Homo sapiens: one gene and its partners. The protein of the gene in region 2 interacts with the protein of the main gene of each other region in a biochemical or structural test. Each region holds a gene or a part of one and is shown on either strand. Other genes may lie near its edges. The genes, in order: DGKK, RIMS2 and RASSF6.

Region 1 (3,654 bases), on a different chromosome or scaffold from region 2:
ATAAATAATTAATAAATGTTAGTTGTTGTTATTACAGAGGACTTGCTTTTTTTCACTGTTGCCCTTAACAGTAAATGGTTGAAGATACTAAAAACTAAAATGGTCACTAGGGGACTAGGCAGCAAATCTAAGGACATCTGTCTCACCAGTTCTCCCTCTTTAGAATATCGGCAGCAGCCAAGTTCTGCCACACTCACTCATTCTGAGTTCCATTAAGAAGATCAGTTTGGACATTAGTTAGAGAAACTCCAATCTCTGGACTGTGGTTGAGGGAGGCAAATCTCATGTGAGAGATGTAAGGTCAGTATGGTAATGAATAAAAAAGTAATCTAAGATTAAACAGCTAAACTGTATCCATTTAATTTCTCAAAAGGACACAGCTAGAAATTATTTATGTTTTCTTAAATAATTTATTTAAGAAAACAATTTTTATTCCTGTCTCCAACCCGCATTCTTGCCCCCACACTTCACCATTGGCTCAAATTTATGTCTGAGCTCTCATGGATCTACCTAATGAATTTTGATCAATAGTGCACTGGCAAAGTGTTTAACAACCTCCTCTCTTGGGGGAGAAAGCCCTGATTCATTTATGGTGTAAACCCTTCCACCATGGCCTATTTAAGTTAGTGATATAATGCCATTGAATCTGGAGTTGGAAAGAGATATGCATAATCAGTTTACATGAGCTGGTGCCAACTGGCTATGGCACACCACTGGTTTTGATGCTGACACCCTAGATGGACACAGGAGACTTGACAAATAATTTGGCTTTTTTGTTATGTACATATCTACCCTCTTTTATCAGTCTTTCCTTCCAAATGTGTGGTCATTTTCCCCTTTGATGTCGGACATCACTGAGAGCAGTTGTGCAGACTTAACTGTCATGGCACGTTTGTGTCTAGGATATTCAAAAGTTCTTTATAGGAGTAAACAGTATTTCCCTTAATACTACATATGAAGAAAATATGGGCCACTCATACATAAGGCCTCCAAAGATGACTAAAATCATCAATGTTGCTTCTTTATTATGAGTTCCAATCCCACTGAAGCTTCCCAACTGGCGAGGCACTCCCTCTTACAGCTAATAAGCTAGTTGTTCACACAAAAGGATATCTACATGTGCCTCTCAAAAATGTTATAGTTAGTGCCCAGTGTGGAGGGGGCCTTCCCTCACTGGTTTTCCATCATGCAGATTCATCTTCATGCCCAATTGATAGCGGCACTTCTTTCCTGCACCAATGTCTGTCCTCTTCTTTGAATAATTTCAGACGCTTCAAAGAAAAATGTGTCATGAACAACTACTTCGGAATTGGACTGGATGCTAAAATTTCTCTGGACTTCAACACCAGAAGAGATGAACACCCAGGGCAATACAAGTAAGGAAAAGAAACTCCCTTCCCTACATGCAAACACACTATCACAATACACATACGTATTCCTACATTCTCTACCTCTCAGACAAGCAACAGAAAGAAAGGGACCCACTGGAAGTAAAATGCATTGGCCCCAAGACTAGTCTAGCGGGACAGTGTGTGCCAAATTTTGGATGACTGCACTGGCATCCTAAACTTGAGCTGCCTTCAAATCCAGACCTGTGGATTTCTGTGTAAACACAGCTACCTGTGTTACTGTTACTGACAACAGATTATGTTGACTCAATTTAGCAAATCGCCCACCTTTGTTCTGTCTGTGAAAGTTTAACCAGGTTTCAGTAGTGGCTTCAGATCTGTTTTCACTTGACAAAGTTGCAAAGTATCAAACATCCCTCTATTTGTTTTTGGTGTTCCTAACCTGGTTCCCCTGAACCCGTTAATTTTACCCTATCCAGTGTTGGCCTGCATGGCACCTTCTCGCACTTTCATACTTCAGACAAGGCCTAAGTCAGTCTCAGAGTTCTTGTGGTACATTGAAGCTATAAGTAAAAAGTGTGACACCCCACCCCACAACACCCCACCCTTGCCACCACCACTAGAACCTCTTTCTCAAAGCAGGCCTGGGCTGAGAAACAGGAACTTTGTCAGATATGTGATTTGCAAATATTTTCTCCCAGTCTCTTGCTGGTCTTTTCATTTTCTTAGTGGTATCTTTGAAATACAAAAGTATTGAATTCTAAGGCGGTCCAATTGATCAGTTTTTTTCTTTATGGACCATGCTTTTGGTGCCATCTGTAAGAAATCTTTGCCTAATCTGAGATCTTAAAAATTTGCTCCTAAGTTTTCTTCTAAAGTTTGTATTGTTTTAGCTCTTATTAATACATTTAAGTGTATGATCTACTTTGAGTTAATTTTTACGTATAGTGTGAGGGTCTAAGGTAAGAGTCTAAGTTTATCTTTTTGCCTGTGGATATCTAATTATCTCACCACCATTTTAATTTATTTATTTGTTTATTTTTTTTATTTTCTTGGAGACGGAGTCTTGTTCTGTCGCCTAGGCTGGAGTGCAGTGGCATGATCTCGGCTCACTGCAACCTCTGCCTCCTGGGTTCAAGTAATTCTCCTGCCTCAGCCTCCCAAGTAGCTGGGACTACTGGTGCATGATACCATGCTTGACTAATTTTTTGTAATTTAGTAGAGACGGAGTTTCACCATTTTGCCCAGGCTGGTCTCGAATTCCTGAGGTCAGGCAATCCGCCCGCCTCAGCTTCCCAAAGCGATAGGATTATAGGCATGAGCCACCGCGCCCGGATCTAGAGCCATTTTTCAAAACAGCTATCCTTTCCCCAGTGAATCGTGTTGGCACCTTTGTCAAAAATCAATTGACCACAAATGCAAGGGTTTATTTCTGGACTCTCACTTCTGTTCTATTTATTTATGTGTCTATCCTATGCAAGTACCACACTATCTTGATAACTATAGCTTTACAGTAGTTTTTGAAATTGGGAGATGAAAGTCCCCCACTTGATTCTTTTTTTCAGAATTGGTTTGTTCTAGGTATTGTACATTTTCATATACCTAAACTCCTATTTTTGTAGATGAGAACACCAAAGTGCCCAGAGAATGAATGGTTTAAACAGTGTCTCAATAATTTTGTGCTAGCCTTCTGACATTTCAAAACTCATTCCATGTGATGATGGCTCATTTCTGTGGCTCTACTTTACAAGCTCCAAGTAAACTATATCCAGCCTTTCTAGTGATCGTAAGTGCCCCACCTATTTCTATCAGAGATTCCACAGTCAACAAGACGCTGTCCTCCCCACCTCCACCTCAAGTCACCTGATATCCTTTCCTGTCTCCTATTTTTCTCCACTGGCTCCTCCTCTAAAATCTCCCTACAAGCTTAGATCTGTTCCATGGCATTGAATTAGGCATTTAGTATATGGATCTGGTGTTTGGAAAAGTACTTCACTTTGCCAGAAAAGTTGCTGCTTCAAAAAAAATTGCACTCTAAGAGTCACGTGTTTCAAATGAAATTGATTCCAAGCAGCTGAAATCTCCTGGAGTAGCACAACTAGGGTAGCTGGTGTGTACCAGCCAGCTACGCTCATAGCTTTTTATGAGCATTGATGTCTGAATATAGCCTGTTTCTTCCAAGTCTGGACCAATATTGGTAGCAAGCAGAAATGGAAAATTTATTTATTGATAGGATACTGAGGCTTCAAAGGGGCCCAGGAACCCATTTCTTCAAGTGTTTGCATTGGATATCAGTTACATTAAC
Region 2 (3,754 bases):
TCTCTAGACGATTCTTGCTCCTTTCACCCTCACAGCCTCCAGTGGTCGCTTCATCTTCGCACCCTCCCGGCCAACCCTAACTCTCCTCGTCTCTCCTCGCGCTGTCTCGCGTCCTCCCCTCAGGATCCTTCCGCACATTCTCAGCGTCCAGCGCGGTTTCCCACAACTTCCTCACGCCCCGCTCCCCTCGCCCTGTCCCCGCCCTCGACACCACCTGCGTTCCCCACTCGCTCCAACCTCCCTCCCCCGCTATCCCCACTTGTGGGCCTCCAGCTCTCTGCCCCTTTCCTGGCCCCCATCCCTGACACCCCAGGGACCCTTCCTCCCTCCTCACGTTCTCCCTCCTTCCAGGATCCCGCCCCGACACTTCGGGGCCCTCCCGCTACGCGCACTCTTTCTCCTCAGGTCCTGACACCTGGGCGCCCCCTCCCTGTCACCCACCTTCAGCTCCAGCCCTGACTCTCGGGCGCCTTGCCACCCTTACGCTCCCCGCCCCGCCCCGGTCCCTCGGGCGCCCCCACTCGCCGCCTCTACCTCCCTACCTGCTACACCTGGCACCCCTGCCCCCACCCCTGCTCATACTCTTCCCCCGCCCCCGACACCTCGGGCGCCCCCTCACACGCTCCTATTCTCCACACTTCCGTCCCCGAAAACTCGGGCGCCCTCTCCCTTCACGCTCAGTCTCTCCTCCCTCCCCGCCCGGCCCCGGACCCAGCCTGGAGATCGCGCTCGGGAGGGGCGGCTGCCGCCCGCGGGGCGCCCGCGGTGCCCGGGCCTGGGCAGCGAGGAGGTGACGCCGCCCCCGCGGGATGAGCCCGGGAGGCGGAGGGGCGGAGGAGGTGCTGGCGGCGGCACTGAGCGGCGGCGGCGCAGGGCGCGCGGGCCTTCCGCGCCGACTCCATCGACCCAAGGGGCGGCGGCGGTGGCGGCGGCTGAGCGACCCTGGGCCGGGCGCGTGATGAGGAGGGGCCGGCGCCAGACCCCGCTGCACGTCGGAGCTCGCCTGGATCCGGGCGTTGGCAGCCGAAGGGCCCTGGCCCCGGGACTCTCCGCCGCTAGCCCCCGTCATATCTTCTCCGCTTTCGCTTCTCCACTCTAGCCGGGGGTGGGGTGGGTGGGGTTGGGGTCTCCGCGGGGGTTTCCGGCCCCGCGGCCCGCTCCCGGGTGTGCCTGGAGGAGTTCTCCCTCTGTGGCGCGCGGGAGCCCTGTGATGCGTCAGCCGGCGGGACGGATGAGTTGCTTCTCCGGGAAACCGTCCTCGCTTCCTCACGACCCTCTCGGCTCCCGCCTGGGTGCCCCTCGGGCCGGCAGTACTCCGCCTCCGGGCGCTCGAAGCGAGTTCCCCGGGGGCTTGTTCGCAGGCACCCCTTCCCCTCCGAGGCGGCGCGCGCGCTCCCGGCCCTGACCGCGGCCGGACACACTCGCGCCCCGGTCCGCCTGTCGCCCTCCCGCCTGCTCCCTCCAGTCACCCCACCCTTAGCTGTCCCCGCCACCTTACTCCACCACCCTCCCCCGCCTCTCCGCGCACTCCGCGTCCCGGCCTCCAGTTCCCCTTTCCCTTGAACCGCTCACTTCACAGCCCTTCGCCCCCGGGAAGAAGAAACATTTCCCGAAGCGCACTCCTCAGCCCTCCTTCCCCACGCGCTCGCCCTCCCCTCCCCCTGCTTTTCTTGGGGGAGGGGGGCTGTCGCCTTGGATTGAAGGCCATTGATTTGTATGTATTTGTCCCAGCGCTGGAGGCTGCCCCAGCCGCCGCGCCGGTGCCGCCGCTGCCAGTGGAGTTGCCTCCCCGCTTCCCTAGGGTGGTTCGGCTCCACCAAACATGTCGGCTCCTGTCGGGCCCCGGGGCCGCCTGGCTCCCATCCCGGCGGCCTCTCAGCCGCCTCTGCAGCCCGAGATGCCTGACCTCAGCCACCTCACGGAGGAGGAGAGGAAAATCATCCTGGCCGTCATGGATAGGCAGAAGAAAGAAGAGGAGAAGGAGCAGTCCGTGCTCAAGTAAGGACCTGGCTCCATATTCCCGCCTCTCTCCCTGCCCTCCGCCCCCTCGCCCACTGCCCTGCGGCCGCCTGCGCGCCCCAGTTCGCCGCCCTCCCTCCCGCTGGCGGCGCCCAGGCCACGAGGGCTGCGGCCAGCGCCGGCCGCCCGGGCTGTTTTAGGGGTGTCTGAGAGCAGGGGTGTGTGTCGGGGAGGGAGGGCGCCAAGGCCGGCTGAGGTGAGGGTGGCGAGCCTTAGGCGGTGTGATTTTCCTTGGCGCCTTTCCGGATTTCCTCGCTGGTCATCTTGGCTCCGGGGCCCCAGCGGGACTGGGGCTGAACCCAGGCTCTGTGCGTACCCTCTCCTTTCCCGCCGCGCTGAGGCAGTGACTGGGGCACAGAATCCAATATGGCCGTGCACAGGTGCTCCCTGGACGGACCCGGGCGAAGGCGCGCTGGCAGGGGATGCGGACGCCACCCTGGTCCCACGCCTCCGCGGGGCGGCTCTACCAGCAACGCGGGACAGAGCAGGGCTGCCCACAGTGGCTGCGAGCAGCGGGCGGCGGCGCGGGCTAGGGGCCTAAGCTCTGTCGCGGTCGGGTGGGTGTGCGTCCGCCGCCATCTTCCAGCCCCTCCCCCTCGGCGAGTGCTAACACCCTGCACTCTGCTGCTCTTCCTGTTTGCAACTAGTAAATCTGTTTAATCCTGAAGAGACTCCAGTTCCTACCATCACTGCAGTTTGGGATGCTCCCTACCTTGTGAAGTTCTACTATTCTTGCTCACGGTCTTGGCAGGCCGGGTTTTTCTGAGGGTGGTAGGAGTGAAAGCAGCACCCAGGCATGCGTTTACCGGCTCTGGAACTTCAGCACCAGGGAACTGTCCAGACAGGGTTATCTTTAGCTCTGAGACTACTTTTCTGGTTAGCGTAGCAAAGAGATTTGTTTCTACAAGGTTTGCTTTTGAATGTTTTATGGTTATTTGATTTCTCAGTTACTTTGTGAAAGAGGTTATTCAGAAGATGTGTAACCTTTTTATGTTTTTCCAGCTTGGCTTTTTTCTTTTTACTTGAAATGAGTTATTCAGATGATTCTTTTGCGTTTTGTCAAGTATACGTTTCCCATATTCTCCACAGAAATATACAATTGAAAGTGTAGAGTTCCTCTGTGAAGGAACTAATACACTCACCTCTATTCAGGTACATTTTAAAAGCAGGTTGTTGAATTTAGTAGTCTTTCATGTACTAATAAAGAAACAGGTTTCATTGTCAATAGGTATATATTTTCATATTTTAATGAAAAATACCACTTTAAATAATTTATAGTAGCAAACATCAAATATTCACAAATCTTAGAGAAAGATACTATTTCTCACAAAATATTGAGTGGCTAAAAGAGCAAATATGTTCCTGAAATAACTGAAATTAAGAATGTCTTCATGAAAGCTAATTTCTGGCGTTGAATACTTATTTGGGAATGTTATTTATTAACAGCCTTCAGATATGAAGAAATTAAGAGACTTAAGCAGTTTACTCTAACTAATAGAAGAATAAAGCATTATTTTTAGAAGCTTTTTGAGCATACTTCTTACTGTGCTTAACTTTTTTTTTGTATACTAACAATGCCAAGCTTTTGATGACTTGCAGTTTGATATTTAAATATGTGAACTTAATGCCTTTTACTATAATTGATAAAAATCAGTGCGGCCAAAATGATGCTCCAGTAAAATGTAGTTTTATTTTTTTGACTTACCTATTTAAATGTAAAATGTGTTTTTATTTC
Region 3 (3,654 bases), on a different chromosome or scaffold from region 2:
AAAGCTGCTTAAAAGAACACATAATATTCAAAAACAACAAAGAAAAACAAACAAAAACAAAACAAATTTTTTAAATTAATGACCTTGGATTTTTTTTGCCCTATAAGAAGATTATGTTCAAGATATTGAATACCCTTAATATAATATAATTTTAAAGACTTATGTGACAATTCTTTTTCTAGACATCAATTTTCATTCCAGCCTTTGAATCAGAAACTAAGGTCAGAGTAAACAGTAACATGAGAACTGAAGAAGTAATAAAGCAACTTCTCCAAAAATTTAAGGTAACCTTTATCACTTAACTGAGCTATAAATATATTATATATAATTCAACTATAAACACACAAATCCACTCTTCTGAAACAGATCTATAAAGGTGTAAATCTAAATTGGATGTTGAGCACTGAAAGATTCTTTCCTTTGTATAACACCTTTTAGTAACTATCCCTTGAAAAATTATATAATTCCCATAAGAGCAGAGAAGATTTTATGTCTAAAAGTGAAAAATGGAAGAGAGAAAACAGACATGATTTGGGTCTGGTCAGGTTAGAAAACATCATATAACAACAAAGAATTTATATTTGTTCATTTTTTCCCTTGACAGATTGAAAATAGTCCCCAGGATTTTGCTCTTCACATTATTTTTGCAACAGGAGGTAAGAAAGCTTGATCACACTTTTTACCTGACTCTAGAGTGCTACAGTTTGCTGCCCAGGGGGAAGGCAGAAGAACAGTTTGCCTCATTCTGTGGAGAAAGGGGAGGAATGGGTAGGAGAAAAGGAAGGAGTGGTCTTTAGAACATTATCTATAGTCCACAATTTTAAAGAAAGATAACTTAAGAATAAGGTATCCCTGAAGGGTTGATTATATGAAAGAGTTTGCTTGTTGGCCAGACATTAAATTATCTAAATGGAGATCAAAACCCTCTGGAACTGTTTCGGCACTTTTGTCTTTGCTCACCTCTGTAACTTTCTTTTTGGCTTTCCTTTCTGAGTGTTGCTCTTAGAGGAGTCATGATTGCATACCTGTTCTCTCTGACATTGATATTGCCTCTTTTTTAGCACAGGGTCTGACACATTGCGGGAGTGCTATCTCTTCCTCAGTAGAGATGCATATTCAGAACTTCGTGGTGAGGGGTGAAAGGTTAGAAGCAGAACATTGGGAAGGCGCTGTAAGTGGGATGCTAGGAGCATAATAGAGAGAATAGAGAAAACTTAAAGTGATACTGAAATGAAAGTTTTTAAAACTTCACAAATGAAAAATTTTATATATCAATTTGTAGAAAAAACTCATGCTATAATTTAAGTGTCAGAATGTTCAAGCCAGAAATTTATTAGAATAAAATAATACATTTTGATGCCAGAACACCTTAAGAAAATGAAAGCTGTATCTCTAAACATATATAAAATTAAAGTTCTTATAATTGAAAGCTTAAAGATCTATAATTAAAGACTTAAACGTTAGACCTAAAACCATAAAAACCCTAGAAGAAAACCTAGGCATTACCATTCAGGACATAGGCATGGGCAAGGACTTCATGTCTAAAACACCAAAAGCAATGGCAACAAAAGCCAAAATTGACAAATGGGATCTCATTAAACTAAAGAGCTTCTGCACAGCAAAAGAAACTACCATCAGAGTGAACAGGCAACCTACAAAATGGGAGGAAATTTTCGCAACCTACTCATCTGACAAAGAGCTAATATCCAGAATCTACAATGAACTCAAACAAATTTACAAGAAAAAAACAAACAACCCCATCAAAAAGTGGGCAAAGGACATGAATAGACACTTCTCAAAAGAAGACATTTATGCAGCCAAAAAACACATGAAAAAATGCTCACCATCACTGGCCATCAGAGAAATGCAAATCAAAACCACAATGAGATACCATCTCACACCAGTTAGAATGGCAATCATTAAAAAGTCAGGAAACAACAGGTACTGGAGAGGATGTGGAGAAATAGGAACACTTTTACACTGTTTGTGGGACTGTAAACTAGTTCAACCATTGTGGAAGTCAGTGTGGCGATTCCTCAGGGATCTAGAACTAGAAATACCATTTGACCCAGCCATCCCATTACTGGGTATATACCCAAAGGACTATAAATCATGCTGCTATAAAGACACATGCACACGTATGTTTATTGCGGCATTATTCACAATAGCAAAGACTTGGAAGCAACCCAAATGTCCAACAATGATAGACTGGATTAAGAAAATGTGGCACATATACACCATGGAATACTATGCATCCATAAAAAATGATGAGTTCATGTCCTTTGTAGGGACATGGATGAAATTGGAAATCATCATTCTTAGTAAACTATCGCAAGAACAAAAAACCAAACACCGCATATTCTCACTCATAGGTGGGAATTGAACAATGAGAACACATGGACACAGGAAGGGGAACATCACACTCTGGGGACTGTTGTGGGGTCGGGGGAGGGGGGAGGGATAGCATTAGGAGATACACCTAATGCTAGATGACGAGTTAGTGGGTGCAGCACACCAGCATGGCACATGTATAGATATGTAACTAACCTGCACATTGTGCACATGTACCCTAAAACTTAAAGTATAATAATAATAAAAATAAAATAAAATAAAATAAAGATCTATTTTTTGGAAAATTCTAAGGACACATATATATTCATATTCTAGTTGTTTAGGAAAGAAAGAAAACCAAAAGATATAAAATAAATGGTAGCAATACTGGACTGTGTAACAATTTAAAAGATACAAATAGTAGATTACAAAGAATATTGTCAATGTACTCCAAAGATTAATAACTATAATACCAATAATTTCCTACAAAATGGTAACAAAACAACAGACAATCCGATAAAAATAGAAAAAAGCATGAAAATACAATTGAAAGGAAAAACCATAATAACCAGTTAAATAGTTTTAGAAAAGTCTTAAATTCAGTGAAATGCAAGTAGCTAAGGAAATGCAAGCTCAAGCCACACCGTAATATTATCTTGCACTTCTCAGATTGGCAAAATGCTTTAAAATGATTCTACCCATGGCTGGCATGCATCAGGGTAAAAAGATATTTTTATGCAACACTAGTGAAAATATGACTTTCTTCTTATTGGAATTTATTCTTGCAATATTTATTAAAATTTACAGTATATATGTCCTTTAACTTGACCATTCCATTTGTGAGAATCTATCCCACAAAAATATAAGCACTAGTGCCTACAGATTTATGTGTAACACTGTTTATAAGGACAAAAAGCTAAAGACAAAGTTACTCATCCTAGGGAAATGATTAAATAAGTGATTGTTAGGCTGCCATTGAATGGAATGAGTAGATTTATGCCAATAGAATGGAGGGAGTTCCATAATATATTTTAAGTGAGAAATGCAAGATGCCTAAAGGTATATATAAAAGATCCCATTTTTTAAACAGTTACAAGCTCCCATTTAAGTATGTGGTATATATGGTCTTATGACTAGGGAGAAAGGTATGGAGTGATAAATACAAAACCATTGAGATAGATTACCTGGTGGGGGATTGGGGAAATGCAGATGAGAGGATGAGAAGGGGGGTGTCAGGCACGGTGGCTCATGCCTGTAATCCCAGCACTTTGGCAGGCCGAGGTGGGCGGATCATTTGAGGTCATGAGTTTGAGACCAGCCTGA

What was found.
Region 1: the proteins of RIMS2 (region 2) and DGKK interact in a test that uses a peptide from one of them, tested with the Homo sapiens proteins (one large-scale study listed by IntAct).
Region 3: the proteins of RIMS2 (region 2) and RASSF6 interact in a test that uses a peptide from one of them, tested with the Homo sapiens proteins (one large-scale study listed by IntAct).

The regions. Positions count from the first base shown.
Region 1 is NC_000023.11:50,380,218-50,383,871, reverse strand, and holds part of DGKK (diacylglycerol kinase kappa), read left to right. Parts: intron 1-1,268; coding exon 1,269-1,376; intron 1,377-3,654. UniProt on the Homo sapiens protein: Diacylglycerol kinase that converts diacylglycerol/DAG into phosphatidic acid/phosphatidate/PA and regulates the respective levels of these two bioactive lipids.
Region 2 is NC_000008.11:103,499,065-103,502,818, forward strand, and holds the start of RIMS2 (regulating synaptic membrane exocytosis protein 2), read left to right. Parts: upstream 1-1,545; 5' UTR 1,546-1,822; coding exon 1,823-1,998; intron 1,999-2,335; exon of another isoform or gene 2,336-2,624; intron 2,625-2,731; exon of another isoform or gene 2,732-2,846; intron 2,847-3,754. UniProt on the Homo sapiens protein: Rab effector involved in exocytosis. May act as scaffold protein. Plays a role in dendrite formation by melanocytes.
Region 3 is NC_000004.12:73,578,819-73,582,472, reverse strand, and holds part of RASSF6 (ras association domain-containing protein 6), read left to right. Parts: intron 1-182; coding exon 183-284; intron 285-604; coding exon 605-656; intron 657-3,654.